Linked DNA regions of Homo sapiens: regions 1 and 3 are each linked to region 2. The links come from fine-mapping of genetic effects on gene expression. A gene starts in region 2. Each other region holds a variant in brackets. All regions are shown on one strand. Distances are from middle to middle. Region 1 overlaps MAP7D2 (MAP7 domain containing 2). Region 2 holds the start of EIF1AX (eukaryotic translation initiation factor 1A X-linked). Region 3 has its middle 44 kb from the start of RPS6KA3.

Evidence for each region. PIP is the estimated chance that this variant, and not a neighbour inherited with it, causes the effect. A credible set is the group of variants that fine-mapping cannot tell apart.
Region 1: its variant is the best candidate, but not a certain one, in a credible set for the expression of EIF1AX in prefrontal cortex (GTEx, PIP 0.85).
Region 3: its variant is the best candidate, but not a certain one, in a credible set for the expression of EIF1AX in sigmoid colon (GTEx, PIP 0.66).

What each region holds. Positions count from the first base shown.
Region 1 is chrX:20,100,111-20,108,294 of GRCh38, reverse strand. The region is part of intron 1 of MAP7D2 (MAP7 domain containing 2); the gene reads left to right. Among named protein-coding and RNA genes, the nearest start is that of MAP7D2, 13 kb to the left of the region's middle. The variant C/A (reference allele first, on the strand shown) is at 4,672.
Region 2 is chrX:20,137,478-20,145,661 of GRCh38, reverse strand. It overlaps EIF1AX (eukaryotic translation initiation factor 1A X-linked), which reads left to right and starts at 3,824. Exons shown (of 7, transcript NM_001412.4): 1 at 3,824-4,037; 2 at 7,040-7,123. The coding sequence starts at 4,022. EIF1AX-AS1 (EIF1AX antisense RNA 1) reads right to left here and starts at 5,694. Exons shown (of 2, transcript NR_046592.2): 1 at 5,427-5,694; 2 at 5,218-5,327. RefSeq lists enhancers at 3,713-3,762, 3,823-4,092, 4,423-4,582.
Region 3 is chrX:20,306,562-20,314,717 of GRCh38, reverse strand. No RefSeq gene overlaps it. Among named protein-coding and RNA genes, the nearest start is that of RPS6KA3, 44 kb to the right of the region's middle. The variant G/A (reference allele first, on the strand shown) is at 4,104.

The DNA.
Region 1 (8,184 bases), 37 kb after region 2:
CCACTGCACTCCAGCCTAGGTGACAGAGTGAGACTCTGTCTCAAAAAAAAAAAAATAAAATAAAAAAGAAGCATGCTCTCAATTTATGCCTTTATTCTTTATTGCAGATTGATAATGAATAATAAAGAGATTGTGCTCCCTCCCCACAGCCCATCAGGGTTAGGCTGCTCAGGGTTTCCTGAAGAAAAAAACAAACAAACAAAAAAAACGTAAAAAAGAGAGACTGGCACCTGTCCACAGGACACACTTTGAATAGCTCTGCCCTGGGCCAGTATTTCCCAAAGGGTATGGTACATAAGAGGGTTTTAGATTGCATGTGGACAGACTTATCTTTTTAACTTTAGATTAATAGTTCTGTTGATTCTTCAATTTATTTTAAAACTACAACTAGTACATCATGCTACAGTTTCTGAATATTTTCAGAATGAGTAAAAAGTGAAAAAACTACAAAAACTAAGCGAAAATAAGTCAATTTAAAGAAAAAGACTATCCACTGGGCCTGGCGTCTAGGAAAAAAATTTTAAAAATAAAAAGACCAAATAATAGAAGTCAGTGCTGGCTAATACAAACAGAATGCTAGCCACATATGTAATCTTAATTTTTCTAGTAGACACATTAAGAAAAAGAAACGGTGAAATTAATATAATACAACTTACTTAGTCAAGTATGTTCCAAAATATTATCTTTCAGCATGTAATTAATTAATTAATTTTGGGGGGGGCGGGAAACAGAGTCTCTCTCTATCCCCCAGGCTGGAGTGCGGTGGCGTGATCTTGGCTCACTGCAACCTCTACCTCCCCGGTTCAAACGGTTCTTATGCCTTAGCCTCCCAAGTAGCTGGGATTATAGGCACATGCCACCACGCCTAGCTAATTTTTGTATTTTTAGTAGAGACAGGGTTTCACCATGTTGTCTAGGCTGGTCTTGAACTCCTGACCTCAAGTGATCTGCCTGCCTTGGCCTCCCAAAGTGCTGGGATTACAGGTTTGAGCCACCGCGCCCAGCCCCTTCATCCTCTTATGTACCAAGTTCTCTCCCTTAACCACACTTTCCTTCCCTAAAGTAGGTAAAATTTGGCAAAACAACCAACCAATCCTGGCTTCCCCTGTGTGAAACCAGGTCCCTCACAATCCTCTCCAAGGATGAGCATTCCTTCTGTCTCTGCTGAAAGAACCAGACAGCACATTAGATTTCATCATTTTCCCCACCGCCCTCTGCTGTGGGCTACCCCGAGCCTACCGCCCTTGCCGTCATTACTAAACCTCCAAAGTTCATCAGCTCTGTGTGTAGTCCTTTTTTTTTTTTTCTTTGTAGAGGCAGGGTTTCGCGCTGTTGCCCAGGTTGGAGTGCAGTGCTGCCATCACAGCTCACTGCAGCCCCAACCTCTCAGGCTCAAGCGATCCTCCCACCTCAGCTCCCAAGTAGCCAGGACCACAGGTGAGTGCCACCATGCCTGGATCATTTTTGAATTTTTTTTTTAAATAGAGACAGGTCTCATGCTGGGATTACAGGCATGAGCCACCTCACCTAGCCTCAGCATGTAATTAATATTAAACGTTATTAATGAGATATCTGACATTCTTTTCTTTGCAGCAAGTCTTTGAAATTCCATGTCTATTTTACACTTCTAGTGTGTCTCCATTTGGACTGTTTGCGTTTCACGTGCTCAATAGCCAACTGCGGCTAGTGGCTACTGTATTGTACGGCACTGACCTAGAGCATTTCCATCACGCAGGGAGTTTTGTGGTCTACATTGAGTCTCATGGTGACTAAGTATTCAGTGTGATGACTGTGCTGTCAAGTATGGCGTGAAGCACAGTATGTGTGCTGTGGTAGTGAGTCCAGCTTGGATCTCTTCTTCATGAATGTAGAGGAAATGGAAACACACTTTGATGGAATGGGCTCCCCCATATCAGGCAAAGCAGGCCCGGATTCCCCAGGCTTTTGAAGGGATATCCTGATTTTGCTTTCCCCAGCCTGGGTGAAGGGAGTGCACCAAGGCTGTGACTAGTGGGTCCTCACACAGATTATTGTCTTGGGGACCTGATAGACTGTGGAAAGGGGATGGACTTGGCTTTGTGGGAATTATTAAGCTGTCATCGAGGAAAAGTGCTAAGGTTTGAATGTCCATTCCAAAACTCATGTCAAAATTGCCATTGTGATGGCATTAAGAGATGGGACCTTTAAGAAGTGAGTAGGCCATGGGGCTCTGCCCTCATGAGTGGATTATTGTTGATAGTGGATTCGGTTTGGCCCCCATTTGCTCTCTCTGTATCATGGGCTTGCTTGCCCTTTTGCCATGTTTTGATGCAAGAAGAAGGCCCTCACCAGATGCCAAGCAGATGCTGACACCACCAGCATCCAGAATTGTGAGCCAAGTAAATTTGTTTGTTATAAGTTACCCAGTCTGTGGTATTCTGTTATAGCCACTGAAAACAGACTAAGACAGAAAGCATGGTATTGAAAAAACATGGAACCATAACTGTGGGAGGAGAGAGCTGTATTAGCCAGCTTAGGATCTCCTGGGTTTGGTGTTGGGGTCGGGGTCAGGAATCCCTGCTGCTGGGTAGGGTCTGCTGAGTCGGGATTCAATGGGCTCTGTGAGATTCGATCTGGTCATCTTCCCCAGCTGGTGTCATGTCTTCCTAGTGCCTTGTCCACAGAAGCCACTTGCTGATTCTGACCAATAGGTACTGATTGACTGTTAGGACAGATGCCCTAACTCTGGGAACTACACCATTAAACAGGGAAGTTCCAGTGTATCTGGGCTGGTTCTGCCTCCATCTTTCTAGGTTTGATGTGAAAGAGCTGCCATTAGTTACAGATGGCCTTAGTGGACTGATTACCCAGCACCTGCTTCAGGGCCTGCAGGATGAACCCCTTCCCAGACCAGCTTGTCTCCTTCCTGAGCAGTTGGTCTGTCTTCACCGTTGGTCACTGATTCCTTCAGAGTTGACTCTTGGTTTAGCAACTCAACCAGTGTGGTACTCTGGTTGCTGTGGTAGATGTATGGGATTAACGTCCTTTTCAGCTCCATTTTTTATCCCTACCCTTGTTTTTCTCTTTCTCTCCTACTTTCTGTATTTATTTCTACTGTATTTTATATAAGCAATCTTAATCTTTTCTGGAAGGAGGGAGGGAGGGCAGGAAATGACCTCGCAGCTGGAGTCTCACCAGGCACCTGCAGCCCTTTATTAAGCAGTGCTCTATGTCCCTGTTTCAGAACAACACCTTAATATGTGCTATTAACTTGAAGTAACCGTCTGAATCGTAAACTGGGCAAAACCGAATTCTGCTGATGTGCTTATTCTTAAAAACAGCCCCCCATGGGATTCCTGTATGTTCTCTTCCTTCAATACCTAGCGCGTTTTCAGCACTACATTTACCAGAGGGAAAGTGTATTGTTCATGGGGATAGCATCACCTCTTAGCAGGTGTTGCTCTTTTCTACCCTATTAATTGTATTTGTTTAGTTTTCTTGATCACCAGTCAGGGGTGACAGTGGGTGGTGAAATACTGTGACAGCCTTCAGTGGAAGCTTTCCTTGTACCTGGGTAATTTTTCCCCTGGTGGAGATACGTGTTATGAATAAAATTTAGCATTGATCATTTTCATTAGCTAGATAATCAATATTTTTAAGCAGTTGTAGTTATGTCTACAGACCAAAAGCTCTTTTAAAAAAATCACTAATTCTAGGCCAGGCGTGGTGGCTCATGCCTGTAATCCCAGCACTTTGGGAGGCCGAGAGGGGTGGATCACCTGAGGTCAGGAGTTCGAGACCAGCCTGGCCAACATGGCGAAACCCCCTCTCTACTAAAAATACAAAAATTAGCCGGGTGTGGTGGCGCACGCCTGTAACCCCATCTACTCGGGAGGCTGAGGCAGGAGAATTGCTTGAACCTGGGAGGCAGAGGTTGCAGTGAGCTGAGATTGTGCCACTGTACTCCAGCCTGGGCTACATAGCGAGACTCTGTCTCAAAAACATCATAAACTAAACATTAAAAATTATGCATTTTAATTGCCATTTTCTTACTGCAAAACATGTTCCTGCTCTCCCTTTTTCCTCTCCTCACCCACCTAAATTTCCACTTCACTTGATTTTACTTTTGCCAGTCACAAATTTTTTTCTGAAGAATAATTGCTTCTTATTAATAGTCCATTGAGCTCCACATATCCCTAATCTTCTGGGATGAGATTAACCCTTTTTATAGAAGAACAATTAAGTGAGGAAAATGGACTGTTTCACTATACCCTGTTCAACTTTAATTTCTCTTAGTTGTGTTTTAGTTTCTCTGTTTCAACCAAGAGGCCCAAGGGTTCTCAGTGCCTTTCTACTGGGGAGTGTTGAATGTCCTTTGTGGTACATAGTTTTATCTTTACTGCTTAAAAATCAAAAGGATTATTTACACTTTGGCATGTAAAGATTATATCAGAGCAAATGGCTCTTAATTCAAGCAGAGATAAGACATGCAAGGTACAACACTGTCCAGTAGAACTTTCTGTGATGTTGGAAATGTTCTAGGTCTGAACTGTTCCATATGATGGCCACTAGCCACATGTGGCTGTTGAGCATTGAAGACCTGAGTTTTTAATTGTTTCTAAATTTAAAAAAATTGAATTTATATCAGCACATATAGTAGTAGCTTCTGTATTGGACTGTACAATTAACTAG[C/A]TGTTGACTAACCTCGACAGATTAGGATCAGGAATGAGGAAGGAGTTTCAGATCTCAAACAAAGTTACTTCAAACCCACCTACTCTTGGTTTCTCCTGTACAGGCTTTGATATTTGGCACTTGTCATTCAACCACTCTCAGATGCTGGTAGGCCACCAAGAACAGAACCAGCAGTTAGCTCCTTGACACTGTATCAGGTCTGTAGGACAGTGATCGAACTGGTAGACAAGACTTGTTCCTGGCTCCGTGGTGGCCCTGGAGTGCCCACAGTCAGCCAATCCTCTCTGTCCTGTCTCAGCTTTTCAACTTGGCACAACTGAAGAGTAAAAACTGGAGCCAGGGTCTTTAGTTTCACAACTTGGTTGGAGAAACCAGATTGACTTACAAGCCATTACCAAACCATTAGATAAAACCAGTAGCTAGCTATGCAGGATTTGGGTGAGCTGTGGGCAGAGCTTTTCCAGCAAAAGGTTGGCAGGGACCTCAACCACACCCTAGGCCAGAGAACCCCGTGGCAGGAAGTGAGGTTGGTGGGGGCATTGGATGCCTTTGCTGAGTTAATCGTGTTCCCTGTTCTCTAGCAAGTACTCAGTAAAATGGATAAGTCTCAGCTCTTTCATTCTAGCTTGCTCCTTACAAACTGCGGCCTCAGACATTGGCCCCTAGAACTCAGTTGCTTGTCTGTACAATGAGATTGTACACAAGGTGATCTTACTGGTGCGTTCCAACTCTGTGATGCTGTGATCCTCCACAGCTGGCCTAGGAAGCAGAGGGAAGCATATGGCTGCTATCTACCCTTCTCATTAGTGGGATCACCAGCCACATAGCTTAGAACGACTCCCCCCCACCCCGCCCATTACAGCCAAACCCGAGGGTTCTGCCTTCTTTATCTCTCATGACCGCATCCCCATGGCCAGTGCTTTGGGTCAGACTCTGTCATCTAGAGCCTCACCAGTATCAGAAGAACCTTAGGGATCTCTGTCCGTCCGTCCAGGTCACCGTCCCTGTCATGGATCCTTCATGTCATTCTCTTGCTTTAATCTCCTCTGACACTTGCCTAGCACTTCTTAAAGAGTATATTCTAAACTGCTGTTGGAGTTTTCAGGCATGTTGGAATGGGGCTCCAATTTACCCCTCCACCCCCATCTCTCTGGCCTGTAACCACTCCCGCTCAGAATGTTCAGCACACTTTGCACGTGACTGCTTGTGTACATGCTGTTCTCTTCACCTGGAATTCTTTTCCTCTCTGTGTCTGCCATCTTCATTCCTGTCTACCCTGTTCATCTTTCAGTACTTGGCTCACACCTCACCTCCTCTCTGAAGCCTTCCCCAACCACACACACTTTTGATGGTTTTTTCCCTTCTTATTCATTTTCCATTACAGCATTGATTATGAAAATGCAGATAAACCATGTGCAAATAAAACTGGGACTGGCACTTGGAAACTAAAGTACACAAATCTTAAGTGCACAGTCTGATTATGTATACAACCATGTAACCCACACCCAGATCAAGATGTTAAATACTTTCAGTACCCAGAAGGCTCCTTCATGCCTCCTCCTAGTCAATACTTCTCTCAAAGGTAACCACTGTTCTCACCTCTTTTCACTATAGATTTGCTTTGCTTATTTTTAAATTGTATTAAAATAGATTCATTTAGGAGATACTTTTTTATTGTGATAAAATATATGTAACATAAAATTTACTGTTTTAGCAATTTTGAAGTGTACAGTTCAGTGGCATTAAGTACATTCATGTTGTTGTGCAGCCACCACCACAATCCATCTCCAGAACTTTTTCATCAAGTATATCCTTCTTTGTGTCTCTTTTTGTTTTCTTTTCACTTGACATTATGTCTGCAAGATTCACCTATGTTGTCACAGGTACCAGTGGTTCATTTCTTTTTATTTCTGAGTAGTAGTACTTTGTGTGACTGTATCACAATTTGTTTTATCAATTCTCTTGCTGGATGGACATTGTTTTTTTCCAGCTTTTTATTCTTTTGACTAAAACTTTTATGAGCGTTATGCTTGTGCAGATACCTTGATGCCCATACATTTCTGTTGGGTACATACCTAGAAGTGGAATGGGATCTGAAATGTCACTTCATAGATTCTATATAAAGAGTGTTTGTAACCTCCTGAATCAAAACACAAGTTCCATTCTGCGAGATAAAATGATACATCACAAAGCATTTTCACAGTTAGCTTGTTTCTAGTTTTTATCGCTTGATATTCGATTTTTTCTTATAGGCCTCAATGGGCTCAGAAATGTCACCTCGTAGATTCTACAAAAAGAGTGTTTCCAACATGGTAAATCAAAACACAGGTTCCATTCTGTGATAGGATAGGCATGTCTTCAGCATTAGCGGATATTGCCAAACCATTTTCCAAAGTGGCTTGTATTCATTTCTTATTGCTGCTATAACAGATTATCACAAACTTTAGTGGCTTAAAGCAAAATAAATGTATTATCTCAATTCCAGACGTCAGAAGTCTTAAAATCAAGGTGTCAGCAGAGCCTTTCAGGATGTGCTAAGGGAGAATCTGTTTCCTTGTCCTTTCCAACTTCTTTTTTTGTTTGTTTGTTTTTTTTTTTTTTTGAGACGGAGTTTTACTCTTGTTGCCCAGGCTGGAGTGCAGTGGTGCGATCTCGGCTCACCGCAACCTCCGCCTCCCGGGATCAAGCGATTCTCCTGCCTCAGCCTCCTGAGTGGTTGGAATTACAGGCATTCACCACCACACCCAGCTAATTTTATATTTTTAGTAGAGACAGGGTTTCTCCATGTTGGTCAGGCTGGTCTCGAACTCCCGACCTCAGGTGATCTGCCTGTCTCAGCCTCCCAAAGTGCTGGGATTACAGACTTGAGCCACCACGCCCGGTTGTCTTTTCCAGCTTCTAGAGGCTGCCTGCATTCCTTGGCTCATGGCCCCTTCCTCCGTCTTCAAGGCCAGCATCATAGCATCTTCCAATCTCTTTCTCTCTTGCTCCTTCCCCTCCCTCCCCCCCAGCTCTACTTCCACTGTTACATCTCTTCTCTCTAACTCACCTACCTCTGTTGTGATTACCTTGGGCCTACTTGGAAAATCCTGGATAATCTCCCCATCTCAAGAGCCTTAACTTGATCACATCTAGAAAGGTCTTTTTGTTATATGGGATAGCATATTCACAGGTTCTGGGAGCTAGAACATCGACAGCTTGGGGCCAATATTTTGCCAGCCACATGGCTGTACCATTTTGTATTCCCACCACAGTGCATGAGAGTTCTAGTTCCTCTCCATCTTTGTCAGTACTTGGTATGGTCAGTCTTTTGAATTGTAGCTATACTGGTGGAGATGTAGGGGCAAGTCCAAGGCTGCCACCCCAGGCAGTGCATCCTCCTTTGCTCCAGTGATAGCTTTATTGCAACTTATAAGCATTATATTATGAATATGTATTTACATTCCTCTGTCTTAGCCAAACTAAGCACCACTTCATGAGCAGGCTATATAGTAGTTGATTTAATAAAAGGTC
Region 2 (8,184 bases):
AGCCTCCCGTGTGGTTTCCATTTCCACCCTTGCCCCCTACAGTCTGTTCTTAACACAGAAACCAAAATGATCTATTTAAAAACCTACTGAAAGGCCGGGCGCAGTGGCTCATGCCTGTAATCCCAGCCCTTTGGGAGGCCAAAGCGGGTGGATCACTTGAGGTCAGCAGTTCGAGAACAGCCTGGCCAACATGGCGAAACCCCGTCTCTACTAAAAATACAAAAATTAGCCAGGCACGGTAGCGCACACCTGTAGTCCCAGCTACTAAGGGAGGCTGAGGCAGGTGAATCACTTGAACCTAGGGGGCGGAGGTTGCAGTGAGCCAAGATCGCGCCACTGCACTCCAGCCTGGGCAACAGAGCGAGACTCTGTCTCAAAAAAAAAAAAAAAAAAAAAAAAAAAAACCTACTGAAGATTCAAGTGATCTGGCCTCCTTACTTCTCCAATCTCATCTCTTCAAATTCTTCCCTTGGCTCAATGCATTCTAGCCACACTGACCTTTCTTTTCTTCCTTCCTTCCTTCTTTCCTTTCCTTCATTTATGTCCTTCCCTCCTTCCTCCTTTCCTTCTTTCTTTCATGGGGTCTCACTCTGTTGCCCAGGCTGAAATGCAGTGGCACGATCATAGCTCATTGCATCCTCAAACTCCTGGGCTCTAAGGATCCTCCTGCCTCAGCCTCCCAAGTAGCTGGGACTACAGATGTGAACTACCATGCCTGGCTTTTTTTACTGTCGTGTGTTTATTATTTTAGAGATGGGGGGGTGGGTCTCGCTATGTTGCCTGGGCTGGTCTCGAACTACTGGCCTCAAGCTCGATCTTCCCATCTCAGCCTCCTGAGTCACTGGGATTACAGGTGGAAGCCACTGCACCTGGCTTCTTGCTGTTTCCTGAATATACCAAGCATGCTTCCACTCAGGGCCTTTGCCCTTGCTGTTCTCTCTGCCTAGAACACATTTCCCCCAGATGTCCACCTGACTCACTTCCTTCCAAGTGATTAAGATGATCAGTCAGATGGGGGAACCATCCTACAGTAGAGAAATGAAGCCTGATATTTTTTTTTCCTCTTTGAGGTTTTATACTGGGTAATTGACAGAAACTTTTTATTTTTAAACATTTAGAGTTCCGGACTCTTAGAGTCTAACTACTTACCATGTACTAGGCACAATTGCTAATTGAATGCATTATATCAATTTAATTCCTGCAACAACCTAATGTAAGTACTATTCTTTTTTTTTTCTTTTTTTTTGTTCGTTTGTTTGTTGGAGATGGAGTTTCACTCTTGTTGCCCAGGCTGGAGTGCAGTGGCGCGATCTTGGCTCACTGCAACCTCCGCCTCCTGGGTTCAAGTGATTCTCCTGCCTCAGTCTCCCAAGTGGCTGGGACTATAGGCGCCTGCCACCATACCCGGCTAATTTTTGAATTTTTGAGTAGAGATGGGGTTTCACCATTTTGGCCAGGCTGGTCTCGAACTCCTGACCTCAGGTGATTCGCCCACTTCGGCCTCCCAAAGTGCTGGGATTATAGGTGTGAGCCACTGCGCCTGGCCGGTTAGTACTATTCCTACATCCAATTTACAGATGAGAAAACGGAAGCTTGTAAAGAGATTAAAACTTGCCCAAGAAAATAGAGTAATAAGTTACTGCAGAGCTTGAATTTGAACCCAGGCCTCTCTAACTCCAAAGCTCAAGTTCATAATTATTTGACCTTGGAGCAAAATTTAAATAAATTTCATAAAAAATCCTTTCATCCTCAATTATGTAAATTGAAAAATATTGCAGATAGAAAGAGAAACCCAGAACTTTGAGTCCCCCATTATCTTTCAATTTCACTCTAAGAAGTGCATCTGTCATTGGGTTTCTCAATATCAGCTCTGCTGATGTTTTGGGCTGGATAATTGTTTGCTTGTATGGGGGAGGGGAGATTGTACTGTGCACTGTAGGATGTTTAGCCGCATCCCTGGCCTCTGCCCACTAGATGCCAGCATCACTGCCCCCCTCCTCAAGTTATGACAACCAGAAACATTTCTGGTTGACGCTGCCAAATGTTCACAGAAAAGAACCACTATATTAGATGATGATACTTTATTTCTGTCTTCTAAGTATGTGCAAACCCTGGTGTTTGTGGAAAGGTGATTTATTTAAAATAAGTTTACTTGGTTTAGTCAAAATAAGTTTACTTAGAAATAAATCTTGTAGAGTACAGCCCAGCATTAGCCAGCTGTATTAGTTTGCTAGGACTGTCATAACAAAGTACCACGTACTGAGTGGCTTAAACAACAGAAATTTATTTTCTCATTGTTCTGGAGACTGAAAGTCTAAAATCAAGCGTCAACAGGGTTGGCCTCTCTCCTGGGCTTATAGATGGCTACCTTCTTGTTCACGTGGTGTTCTCCCTCTATGCCTGTGGCCTAATAATATCTTCTTGTAAGGACACCAGTCAGATAAGGGTCCACACTAATGACCTCATTTCAATTTAATCACGTCTTTGAAGAACTTATGTCCAAATACAGTCACATTGAGTTACTGGGGATTAGAACGTGAACATACGAATTTTGGGGGGGACACAATTCAGCCCATTAACATTGAGCTTAAGTCTTTTCTCCCCTCCCTCCCTTCCTTTCTGTGTGTATTGAACACCTATTATGTGCCAGACATTCAGCTAAGTGGGGGTAATGGTAAGCAACAAACATGGTCTCTGCCCGGTAAGGTTTACAGTGAGGTAGGACAGACAGACTTAAAGAGTAATAACAAGTGCCATGCAAATATTATGCTTTGGTAATGGATGCCAGGAAAGCCTTGCCCTTCCCATCAGGCTCCCAACCCGGCTGGGCGAGTGAAAGGACTGCGTTATGAGCTAACCGGCTGGGCACGGTGGCTGACGCCTGTAATCCCAGCACTTTGGGAGGCCGAGGTGGGCGCGAGTTGAGGTCACGAGTTCGAGACCAGCCTGGCCAACATGGTGAAACCCCGTCTCAACTAAAAGTACTAAAATTACCTGGGCATGGTGGCACATGCCTGTAATCCCAGCTACTCGGGAGGCTGAGGCAGGAGAATCGCTTGAGCCCGGGAGGCGGAGGTTGTAGTGAGCCGTGATCGCGCCACTGCACTCCAGCCTGGGCGATAGAGCAAGACTCCATCTTAATAAAAAAATTAAAATATTGGCCGGGCGCGGTGGCTCACGCCTGTAATCCCAGCACTTTGGGAGGCCGAGACGGATGGATCACGTGGTCAGGAGTTCAAGACCAGCCTAGCCAAGATGCTGAAACCCCGTCTCTACTAAAAACACAAAAATTAGACGGGCGTGGCGGCACGTGCCTGTAATCCCGGCTACTCCGGAGGCCGAGGCAGGAGAATCGCTTGAACCCGGGCGGCAGAGGTTGCAGTGAGCCGAGATCGCGCCACTGCACTCCAGCCTGGGCGACTCTAGAGCAAGACTCCGTCTCAAAAAATAAAATAAAAATAAAAATATACATATTTTTTAAAAACTGAGCTAACCACGAGGTTAACGAGTCAGCCACTTGTGAAACCGGGAGACGCGCGTTTGCTACAAAGCAGCAGAGGTCTGGTCTTAACCAGCAGCAAGCGCCACCTCAACCCGCCCTTTTCTATGACGCAGAGTCTCTCCCCCTCCCTCCCTGACTCCGCCTTTTCCCTGCTTGAGGCCCTGCCCCTCGCGTCCTCTCTGGCTTGCTGCGCACCCTCCCACAACGCGTCTCCCTCGGCTCTAACAATAGGAGTCAGTCGGCCACGCCTGCGTCATAAAGCCTGGGGGCGGGCCCAGCCGGCGACGGGAGGCGGGGAAAAGCGACGCAAAGAGTCGCGGCGCCATTTGCTGCCGCCGAGCGTGGACGCAGGCGGATCTCTGAAGAGCTGGGTCGCCAGCCTCTCCCGCGCACGTTGCCTGGCCTCCAGCACCTACTTGGTCCCGCGCGCTCCCTCGTGTCGCCCCTCGGAGCAGCAGCCGCCGCGGTCGCCGCTACCCGGAAAGAAGTCAGAGACGCCGCGAGGTCGCCGCCACCGCCATGCCCAAGAATAAAGGTAATGCCGCCCGGACCCCCGGACCACGGCTCTGCTCGGCCGGGTCTCCCAGGTCCTGCCCGTAGATTGCAGGTCACCCAGGCCGCAGTGACCCTTTTTCCTTCCCGCCCTGCCTGCCCGCGGCTGGGCGCCCCACACGCGACTCTGAGCTCGGGAGAGGAGCTGGGAAGTTAACTCCTGTTGCCCAGTTTGGTCACATTGGGGTGGAGCCGGCGCCATTTTTGTAGGGCCTCCTGCGGGAGAATGTGGGCTTTTGCTCCTGATTCGCGCCAGACTGACCGCTGCTCGGTGGGGACGGTGGCGGGAACCTTCCCCGGGGCGGCCTAGGTTTAGTAGATAGGCCCCTTTGGCCTTCCCGGGCATGAGGGGTTATAATCCCTGGAAGCCGTTCTGAACTTTCAGAGTGCTGTCTGCATTCGTGAGCACCAGGTACTCCTGCATGGGTTTCTTTATGGACAGTTCAGTATTGTTGAGGCTACTCGCTGTCCCTTGTGAACAGTGGGTGAAACCTTGATACATTTCTAAGGCTCACCTCTAGAGATTTACTCTCTCCATCCCTTTACAGGATATAGCTTATGTTTGTTTGCTGAAGACTTATTCCATATTGAGCCAAGTTTTCTACTTTTGCTTCAGATGATGCATATGTTGTGAGAATAAAGACCTAATTTAAGTGTCCTCCATTCTGAGGCTAAGCGTTCACAAATGATCAGACTTGAGGATAACTTTATTTGGGATTTCCAAAACGGAAGGCCTAATCTTAAAAAAAAAAAAACAAAAACAAAAAACAGAACACTCCTAAAGAAATTACTTTTATAGATTTACAGTGTTCCTGTCATTTTTAATAGCCGTATAACTTGAAGAAAATTGTGCAAGTAAATATAGGGAAAATACTGTATTTTCCTACAGGAGAGGAGCATACTTCATAGTCCGTAAGTAGTCTCCTTTGATTATTCATTCTAGAGGAAACCCTCCCCTGACACAGGCCTACTTCTGCTCTCTTTTCTACTTGACAGCTGGCTCCAGGGATTCTACCACATTTCCTCTTTGTAGCTGTCACTTATTACTTTATCCCTTAGGGTACTTGGTCGAGGTGTTCTGTGCACAAGTTGGTGCAGTCACTGCTCATTATTTTGGAAAAGATGGAGTTATAAACAAAAAATTTTAAAGTCTTACAGTTTTCTTCTGTATAATCCTTTATTCTCTCTGAGGTGGTAAGGGGATCACTTCCATCTTATTCTCACCTTTATTTCTAGTAATAAGATTTCCAATTCTTCCACCAGGCTGTAAGCTCTACAAGGCAGGAATAGTATCTGTCTTAATCTCATTGGATTGCCAGCACTTGACAATTAGTAGATGCTTAATAAATATTTGTTGGTTTAAGTCACCTACCTCCTGTCGACTCCACCCTTAGTGAATAATAGGTTCTGCTTTGGTTCCAAGGGGATAGGACTTCTACACTAAATCACATCTAGTTCCCTAGCCTCATGTCTTAAGAAAGAGCCTCTCTGGGAATTTCTCCAAAACAACTCTGGTTTAAAGAATGTTGATGTCACTTTAATTGTTGTACACTCAGACCTAGTCTCATTCATTCAACAGAGAATTTAAAGAACATCCCATTACATGGCAATAAAATACAAAGGGGAGTGATCCGGGTATGGTTAATTCTGGTAAATTGACAAGTAATTAGTCTTTTCTTAAATAACATTTGAGGCATACAAAAAATACAGCTAACATGATATACCTGGGAACCCATTACTCTGAATTTAAGAATTACAGCGCAGATTGAGGTAAAGCCCTAATCACCTTTTACTCTCTTTTTGGAGGTAATCACCAGGCTGAGTTTGGTGTTTATCATTCCTGTACTGTCTGAAACCAATCAGTTCTTAGTTATCTTACTTAGAGGAATGGTACTTTTCATGACCTAATTTAAGTGTCCTCCATTTTTTTTTGCTGCTTCCAAGCTCTTCCCATGAGTCTCTTAGGGTCATTACCACTTACAGCCTTTTTCCTGCCTTTTGGAAATGGCTGCCAATGTGGTTTCCTTTCTGGAATGGGAGCAAAATGCTGTGGAGAGGTAAGCTTATGTGGGGGCTAGGGGCAAAAAAAACATTGTGACTTTGGTCACCCCAGCTTACTGACTGTAATCAGTGAACTGATTTACTCACTGAAGCTAAGCGACTTACTTAACTTCTCTGAGCTTCAGGGAACTCATGGGTAAACTGGGAATAAATGAATGTTATGACCTCATGGGGTGATTGTGACAAGTAAATGGGCAGAATTATTGCATAGTGGTTAAGAGCATGGTCACTGGGGTCATATAATAGAAACAGGGATGTTGAGTAGGGACCAGCATTATAAAAGAAAGTAAATTGGGTACCGAACAGATCTTCTTTATTTTTTAAGAGACAGTGTCTCGCTATGTTGCCCAGGCTAGCCTGGAACCTCCTGGGCTTGCTCAAGTGATCCTCCCACCTGAGCCTCCTGAGTAGCTGAGACCCTAGGCGCACACCACTGCACCCAGTGAGATTTCAATATTTATGGTACTCTGCTACCAAAAGTTTGAAAACCACAGTTCTCTGTCCAGACACTGTCTTCACTTAATTTTGAAAGTATCGGGTTCCTTGCATAGGGCCTGGCTTTAGAAGACACCCAAGATTTCCGCTTAGAAGAATATGTATAGAATTGCATTTTTATTTCAAAAGGATGGGTGCTAAAGTGAAATGTTTTTCTATATTTTTTAACATAATATCTGCTATTTATGTGTATTTTATGTCAGAAAAATCCCCAAAGGAAATTCCAAGAAGGGTAGGGAGGTGATAATGTGTTAATGTTGGGATTGGAGATTGTAAATTTAATATGATTGTGTAGCTAAAATAGATGAATTTTTTAATTTAAGTGATCTTTTAAAAAATGGTTTTATAAGCCTTAATTTCATTTTATTTCATACTGTTTTACAGATAATTAATGTCATTTACCTCCTTTTCTTTTTTTTAAACCATCAGGTAAAGGAGGTAAAAACAGACGCAGGGGTAAGAATGAGAATGAATCTGAAAAAAGAGAACTGGTATTCAAAGAGGATGGTCAGGGTAAGTGTTTTCATAAATTACGCTTTTTAAAATAACATCCTTTCTTTTTTAGCTGGGGACTTTATTTTTTTGAGACAGCGTCTTGCCCATCGCCCAGGGTGAAGTGTGGTGGCACGATTACAGCCCACTGCAGCCATGACCTCCTGGGCTGAAGCAGTCCTTCCACTTCAGCCTCCCGAGTATTTGGGACTACAGGCACACACCACCACGTCTGGCTAATTTTAAAAATTTTTTTAGGCTGGGCGCAGTGGCTCACGTCTGTAATCCCAGCACTTTGGGAGGCCAAGGCGGGCGGATCACGAGGTCAGGAGTTCGAGACCAGCCTGACCAACATGATGAAACCCCGTCTCTACTAAAATTACAAAAATTAGCTGGGTGTGGTGGCACGTGCCTGTAATCCCAGCTACTCAGGAGGCTGAGGCAGGAGAATTGTTTGAACCTGGGAGGCGGAGGTTGCAGTGAGCCGAGATCACACCACTGCACTCCAGCCTGGGTGACAGAGGGAGACTCTGTCTCAAAAAAAAAAAAAAAAAAAAAAAAAAAACTGTATAGAGATGAGGTCTTCATATGTTGCCCTGGCTATTCTCGAACTCCTGGGCTCAAGTGATTCTCCCACCATGACCTCCCAAAGTACTGGGAACTAAGAATGTGTCGTATAGTTCAGAGGGAATTGAGCTATGGTTGACAGTTCTGTGATTTAGTTGGCAGTTCTATGATTAGCATTTCTGGTAGTGAATGGTACATATAATATGTTGAGTAGACCATGGACATTTGAAGGATGAGCCTGAGGCCCTTATAGACCTCTCCATTCTCCAGTGCCATTAGCATATAACTTCGTAAACTACAATAAAATGAAACTGAACAGTTAACTGATTTTATTAGACTGAAGAATATTGTAAGTGCCAGACCAAGATACATAGCACTAGTCAAATAAATCCTAACTGGATCGTTTGCCCTTTCCTGTTACTTTTATTTCGAGTCATTTCAAACCTACAGAAAGTTGCAGTATTAGTGCAACAAACTCCCTTAAATCCTTCATCTGTACACACACATATAAAGAA
Region 3 (8,156 bases), 170 kb before region 2:
GTGGAATCATATAATATGTTCTCTTTTGTGCCAGGCTTCTTTTGTTCTTCATCATTTCTGTGATATTCATCCATGTGGTTGTGTATAGCAGTAGCTCATTCTTTTCATTGCTGTATAGTATTCCATTGAGGATATTCCATTGAATATTTCACAATTTATTTATCTATTTTCCTATTGATGAACATTTGGTTTGGTCCCGGTTATGAATAAAGCTGCAGTAAACATTCTTGAATATGGCTTTTGATGGACATAAATATACATTCCTCCTAAATATATACTTAGGAATGAAATTGCTGGATCATAGGTGGCTTTGGTAGTTACTGCCCAACAACCTTCCCAGAGGTTTTGTGCTAATTTACACTCTTACCAACAACATATGAAAACAAGCAAACAAATAAGTAAAACATCTGATAGTGAAAAAAGCAATGTGGAAAATTAAGATCAGATGATGAAGGTACTTTAGATTTGGTGACCAGGCAAGGCTTCTTTAACAAGGTGAACTTTAAGCCTGAATAACAAGAAGATGGCAGCCATGCACATGTCAGAAGAGGAGCATTTCAGGCAGAGGGTAAAACCACAAAGGCCCTAGCGCAGGAAGTAACTGAGCTTGTTTAAGGAACAGAGAGGAATCTAGGGGCCTTGGAGTAAGTGGGGAAGTGAAGACAGCAGATAAAGGGTGTGTTATTAAGCCAGCTGCCACAGTAGGTGACTGGAGCTTAATTCAGTGGGGGAAATTATGAGGAAGGGATAAAATACATGCTTCAGAATTACCCAAGAAAAGGGAATGCTTATATGCTGTTGGTGGGAATGTAAATTAGCACAACCTGGAAAACAGTAGGAACAACTCTGGAAAACAGTAGGAGATTTCTTTTTCTTTCTTCTTTCTTTCTTTTTTTTTTCTTTTTTTGGAGACGGAGTTTTGCTCTTGTTGCCCAGGCTGGAGTGTAATGGCATGATCTCAGCTCACTGCAACCTCCGCCTCCCAAGTTCAAGTGATTCTCCTGCCTCAGCCTGCCGAGTAGCTGGGATTACAGGCGCCTGCCACCACGCCCGGCTAATTTTTTCTATTTATAGTAGAGATGGGGTTTCACCATGTTGGCCAGGCTGGTCTTGAACTCCTGACCTCAGGTGATCCACAGGCCTCAGCCTCCTAAAAGTGCTGGGATTGCAGACATGAGATTTCTTAAAGAGCTAAAAGTAGATCTTCCGTTTGATCCAGCAATTCCACTACTGGGTATTTACTCAAAGTAAAACAAGTCATTGCATCAGAAAGACACCTGTACATGTATGTTTATTGCAGCACAATTCACAATTGCAAAGATATGGAACCAGCCTGAGTGCCCATCAACCAATGCATGGATTTTTAAAATGTGGCATACATACACCATGGAACACTACTCAGCCACAGAAAAAGAGTGAAATAATGTCTTTTGCAGCAACTTGGATGGAGCTGGAGGCCATTATGAGAAGTGAAGTAACTCAGGAATGGAAAACCAAATACCGCATGTTCTCACTTAGAAGTGGAAGCTAAGCTATGGGTATACAAAGGGATGCAGAGTGGTATAATGGACATTGGAAACTCAGAAGAGGGGAGGGTGGGAGGAGTGTGAGGGATAAAAGAACTACATATTGGGTACAACGTACACTACTTGGGTGATGGGTGCACTAAAATCTCAGACTTTACCTCTAAAGAAAGGAAAATAAAAGAATTAAAAAAATATTTAAAAAGAAATTATGTTTTTTAAAAAAAGAGAATTATCCTACCCAAGAGCCGAGAGACCAGGGGTCATTGGTTGAGGATTGCTGCTGGCAGGTTGGGGCTGGAGATGTTAATTTCCCAGCACATCTGTATCTAATATAGGCATTTTCTTCCATGACTGAGATTCAGTATCTTTCTCTTTATCTGGGCCTTTAACTTCGTCTTGTTTTCACTGGTCTTTCCTTGACCCTTGGCCCCACACCCAGCTCCTTGAATTCACTATTCTCTACCACTATAAATGTCATCAGCCATGTGGCCCACTTTCATTCCCATGGTCAGCCTCTCTTAATCAGGTCCACCATTTACTTTTACTTCTCCTGGACTCCCATTCACTAGGTATTCTACCTAGCACAGAGTCTTGCTAATAATAGACTCAGTACATGCATGCAGCATAACTATTGGCAGGGGATCCATAGCCATGCTGATTTGCAAAGACTTCAAATTACTGTTAAATCGCAGTTTGATTCTTGCTACTTCCTGCAATCCTTCCAATCCTTAGGTACTTCCTGGATGTTTTCCTGACAACTAAAGCCTCACTTTCTGTATCAGTTATCAGTGACCACATAATTCTGTGTAATAAAACACCCCAAGACTCAGTGTCTTTAAACAATAACCATTTATTGTGTTCACAAGTCTGTGGGTTGGCAATTTAGGCTGGGCTCAGATGGACAGTGCTTCTGATTTCAACTGGACTCACTCATGGATCTTACAGTCATCTGCAGCTCAGCTAATCTAGGATAACCTCAGCTGCAATGACTAGAATGACTCAACTCTGCTCCTCATGTCCCATCTTCCAACAGGATAACCTGGATATGTTCTCGTGGCAAACACAGAAGTAAGTGAAAACACTCAAGGCCTTTTGAGACCTGGACCTGGAACTGGCCCACCATCACTTCCACCACATTCTATTGCCCAAAACAAGTTACAGGGCCAGCCCAGATTCAAAGGAAAGGAAAATAGACTCTGGCTCTTCAGTGGATGAAATTCCAAGGTCACCTGGTAAAGGAAGAGGTGAAGAAGTAAGGTCATTAATGTAATCTTTCATACTGTAACACTTGCTTTTTGACTTAGAAGGTTGAGTGTGTTTTGTATGTCAATCACACCTCAGTAAAACGGTTTTTAAAACAAGAAGATTGAATGTTTATTTCCTTCCCTTTCAGCTCAAAGTTTCTATACTTTAAAACATCCAAATAGTACAATATAAGCAGCGCTGGCTTTTTGGTTTGAATTATTAGATATTGTTTCAGTTCTCCATTTCTATAGAGGCAGACATCAAAGACAGAAGTATGGAAAGTGTGATTTCACTCATAAATATCCCAGTAGAACTTAAAGACAATATTTTAAGTAACCAACTAAAGACTCATCTTGAACAGAAGTTAGATAACATCACCCACAATCTTAGAGTTTATTTATTTTATTTTATATTAAAGATAAGGATGTTCTCCCTACATCTGATGTCTTCACTGGAAGAGAGGCTGTGCAAAAAGGTGCTTAAATTGTATGTCATTCACAAAAGGGAACAAAGGAGCTGCCACTATTACTGCCGTTGCCATGGCCATATCATATTAAATCAGGATAGAGGAGGTTATTGAAACGGCTCTTCAAATAAGGTATCTTCTCATAAGACGTCTCTGCCAGCGAAATCAGTTGGAACATTGGGTACAGAGTGTCCAGTGGAGAGAACGTACAAAATACTCAAGCCGACGAAGATCCAGTGAATCAAATGGCCTTGCTGTGCTCCACTCAACACTATTTCTGTCTTGCATGAGGTGTGTGTCCTGAATTTGATTTACTATCTTTAATGTCATTCATCCACAGTCCATAGTATATATATGTGGATGCAGCAAGGTGCTCCAATTAGGACCTGGAAATCCACTACAGTCCAGTTGAAGCATAACGATTTGAAACATATAAAATGGTGGAGAGGAAGAGGGATGTGAAGGCAACGAGTTCCTAATGTCCTGCTTAGAAAGAAAGGGCAATGCAGAACGGTGATTAAGCAGCCAAATATCTGTGACAGTCTCAGGCTTGAGTCCAGGCTCTGCCACTGCTCGCTACGTGACTTCAGGTAGGTTTCTTACTATCTTTAAGCCTCGGTTTCTTTATCTGAAAATGAGACTACTGTTGAAACAACCTCAAAGGTTTCATGGAGGAGAAATATCAGTATGTAAAGCATTTTGCAAGGTGCCTGGCACAAAGTTAGCACTTAATTAATGAAAACTATAATTTTTGTTTTGGAGACAGGGTGTCGCTCTATTGCCCAGGCTGGAGTGCAGTGACTCAATCTTGGCTCCCTGCAACCTCCACCTCCTGGGTTCAAGTGATCCTCCCACCTCAGCCTCTC[G/A]AGTAGATGGGACTACAGGTGTGAGCCACCACACCCAGCTAATTTTTGTATTTTTTGTAGAGGCAGGATCTCACTATGTTGCCCAGGCTGGTCTCGAACTCCTGAGCTCAAGCGATCTACCCGCCTTGGCCTCCCAAAGCGCTGGGATTACCGGCATGAGCCATCACGCCTGGCCTGAGAACTATACATTTTTAAACTGGAAGGGACCTAGGAGATCTTTGTATAAAAGCTCATCATTCAGAAGATGAAAAACAACCACAGAGAAGGCTAAAGGAGTCCCACCTCAGTTACACAGCTTAGTGGCACAACTGGGGCTGAAAACCTAAGACTTTCTGATTCCTCTGCCTCTCTGTGTTATCCCTCCACCAACAAGCCCCTCTTGCCTACCCTCTTCCACACAGTGAAACTTCAATAAATAGCTAGGAGTTTTTGCCTTTCCCCTGGAAAGCCGCATCTCAGGCACAGGAAACTCTGAAAGGTATGGAATTTTCTAATGAGGCATTTGCCGCGTGCTCACTTTAATCCACTGCAAGTGTCTCTGGGAAATAAAATATTGGCAGGTCTGTCCAACAGCTGCTCAGCCTAGAGACCACAGCTTATTTTGGTCCATTTATGTTAACTCATCTGTCTCAAGCTCTTTGTTAGTGACTCACCGCATACTGCTACCAAAAATATACACCAAAAATCCAAGAATCATTCATATGAAGGGCAAACGTCTTGCTTAAAATACCACATTTCTGCCGTCGTGTTTTTATGAAGTTTTTCCTTCCTCCCGCCTCCACATCACATTTTCTTCTCTCCTTTCTTCCTTCTCCATCTTTGATCGCCTTCAGTGGCATGGAAGCTGCATGGGGTGATCAAGAGAATTCTAGAATGGATATCAGAAGGCCTGGTTCTGGTCCTGAGCTGGTATGCTTTAACTGCAAAAACCTAGCAAGTCACAACTGGTATGTGACTCGGTTTTTTCTTATCCATAATACAGGAGGGTTGTATTAGCTCTACAGTTCCCACCAGTACAACCGCCAAGAACTTCTTCATTGCTTTCCCTTGAAGGATTCCAAGCTTTGAAAGATTTTCATCTGCCACATAATCTACCTTTTAAAATAAAAATTAATATTCCCCATTTTCTATAAATTTTGAGTAAACAACCTAATTAATATACATTAGAATCAATAAATAACAATAAGCAGGAAATAAAAATGTTTAAAGTATTAAATTGACTTTTTTATTAAGATGGCTGCTATTTCAAATACTATGCCCAGATGTGTCATAGAAAAATACATCATCTTTTTTAGAATTGTTGAAATATTGAAAATGGTTCATATACTATGTCCTATATCTAAAAATAGGTGGGCACAGTGGCTCACGCCTGTAATCCCAGCACTTTGGGAGGCTGAGGCAGGAGAACCACTTGAGGGCAGGAGTTCAAGACCAGCCTGGGCAACAAAGAAGACCCGGATCGCTACAAAAAAAAATTAAAAATAATTAAAAAAATTAGCCAGGTACATTGGTGCAAACCTGTAGTCCTAGCTACTTGAGAGGCTGAGGCAGCAGGATCACTTGAGCCCAGTAGGTTGAGGCTGCAGTGAGCTATAATTGTACCACTGCACTCCAGCCTGGGCAACAGAGCAAGACCCCCATCTCAAATAAAAATAAAAATAAAAATAGACATGGTAAGGATACACAGCAACTTCAGGATGATTGTAACTTCCAGGGAGGAGGAAAAGGATGAAGATGGGGGAGACGGCCTTTGAGTATATCTGTAATATTTCACTTATTAAGACCTGACACAAATACAGGAAATCATTAACAAGTTAAATCTTAGTGATAGATACATGGTTATCAGTTATTAATATTATCCTTTCTTTTTATGATTAAAATATTTCAAAATTAAATATTTTAAATTTACAGAAGCTTATCAACTGAAACTCTTATACATTGCTGGTAAGAGTGTAAAATGCTGTAACAACTTTGGAAAACTTTAGCAGTTACTTAAAAAATTAAACCTACCCCTACCATACAACAAGGCAATTCCCTTCATAGATATATGCCCAAAATAAATGAATACACATATTCATAAAAAGACATGTACAAGAATGTTTATGCCAGCCTTATTTATAAGCCAAAAATAGAAAAGAGCCCAAGTGCCTATCAATAGGTGAAAGAATAAACAAATTGTGATATATTCATACACTGAAATACTACTTAGCTATAAAAAGGAGAGAACACCTTTTATCCAATAATATGGATAAATCTTGAAAAACATGCTGAGCAAAAAGTCACATACAAAAGAAAGAATACATACTGTGTGATTCTATTTACATGAAGTTCTAAACCAGGTCAAACAAATCCATAGTAATAGAAATCAGAGCAGTGTTTGCCTATTGTGTGGGGAGATTACCTAGAAAGAGGCACAGGGAAATTTCTGGAGCGAGGGACGTGTCTTGAGGAAATAAATATCTTTTTAAATTTTTTCTGTATTTTTAGTTTCTGTGGGTACATAGTAGGTGTATATATTTATGGGGTACATGAGATATTTTGGTACAGGCATGCAATGCATAATAATCACTTCATGAAAATTGAGTATCCGTACCCTCAAGCATTTATCCTTTGTGTTACAAACAATCCAATTATACTCTTTTAGTTCTCTTTAAATGTACAATTAAATTATTATTGGCTAGAGTCCCCCTGTTGTCTTGATTGGGGTAGTGGTTACATGAGTGTTTGCATTTGCAAAAAAATAAAAACACCTCTTCAAATTGTATGTCTGAGATCTGTGCATTTCACCCTAGATAAATTTTACCTCAATTTTTAAAAATACCTAAAGCTCATAAACTCACATACTGTTGTCAAGGACTCCCAGGAGAGCTGGGGACCTCAAGACAGGAATCAGTCCTGGAATGAGGATTCCTGCCGTGATTTTCATGTCTGAACAGTGTGAGATTTTACTTTCTATATTGCTCTTTACTCTCATTACAAATGAAGTCTTTCTTTGAGGAAGTCTTTCTTTGAGGAGGTCTTTCAAAGCAATGTGTTGTAGTGGAAAGAATATGGGCTTTAGAAATAGCCAGAGCCCTGGGTTTGAGCCTGTGCTCCCTGGCTCATTGGCTATGTGACTCTGGGCACGGAAGTGACCTCCTTAAGTTTATTTTCTTAACCTTATGCAGGAGCACGCAAAGTCTACTTCCCGGGGTTATTCGGGAGATTAAATTAGATCACACAAGCAAAAGTGTATTTCACACAGCCAGGCTCAGCACAGATGCTCCATACATTCTGGTTTCCTTTTCTTCCTTCCTTTACTTTTTATAGACCCTCTACAGAACGAAAGCTTCATATCTCCTCCATCATCACAGTTCAAATCCTGAGGATATAGGAATAGCTTCCTTGTTCCTCCTCAAAGGTAGCAAGCAAAAATGCCACACTCAAAGGTAGCAAGCAGCAAAAGGGGCTACTTCCCTGAGCCCCATGATTTAATGGGTTCTGCTCTGATACCCCCCATAGCCACATTCTTCCCCATAGGGCAGGAGTCAGTAGGGTCAAAAGGCTATGCCCATCCAGAGCCTGTGCCCCACCTAGACCACAATCCAGGTACCAGGACCCCAGAATACACTGCCCAGGGGACCAAGAGCTGGCTTCCACAGCCACCATGGTCCCCTTCCCTGGTCCATCTTCCCAACAGCAGACCGTGTTACAAATGAGCACATCTCTAGTCCCAAGGAACCATCAAAGGGCAGTTGTTTGGGGCTGTGTAAACAGAGCTTGGACACGTAGGCAGGGTGTCCATCCACATTGTGCAAGACCCCTCGTGGTGTTTGGAGGATTCTGGGGTGGGAAGAGAAAGGGAGCTTGACCTCTGGCTGGGCTCAGGAGCCAGGGGCTGGCTCACCCTGTACCATCAGGTTCTGGTGCAGAACTCTGAGGAGGCCAAGAACTCTAAATCTGGACCTGGCCTTCCAGGCCAATATTGATATGTCAAGAAGATGATAGAATACATTTTATAATATTTTATAACTTTTCACAATCAGGCATAGAGTATGTGGGTTTCCGTGTGTA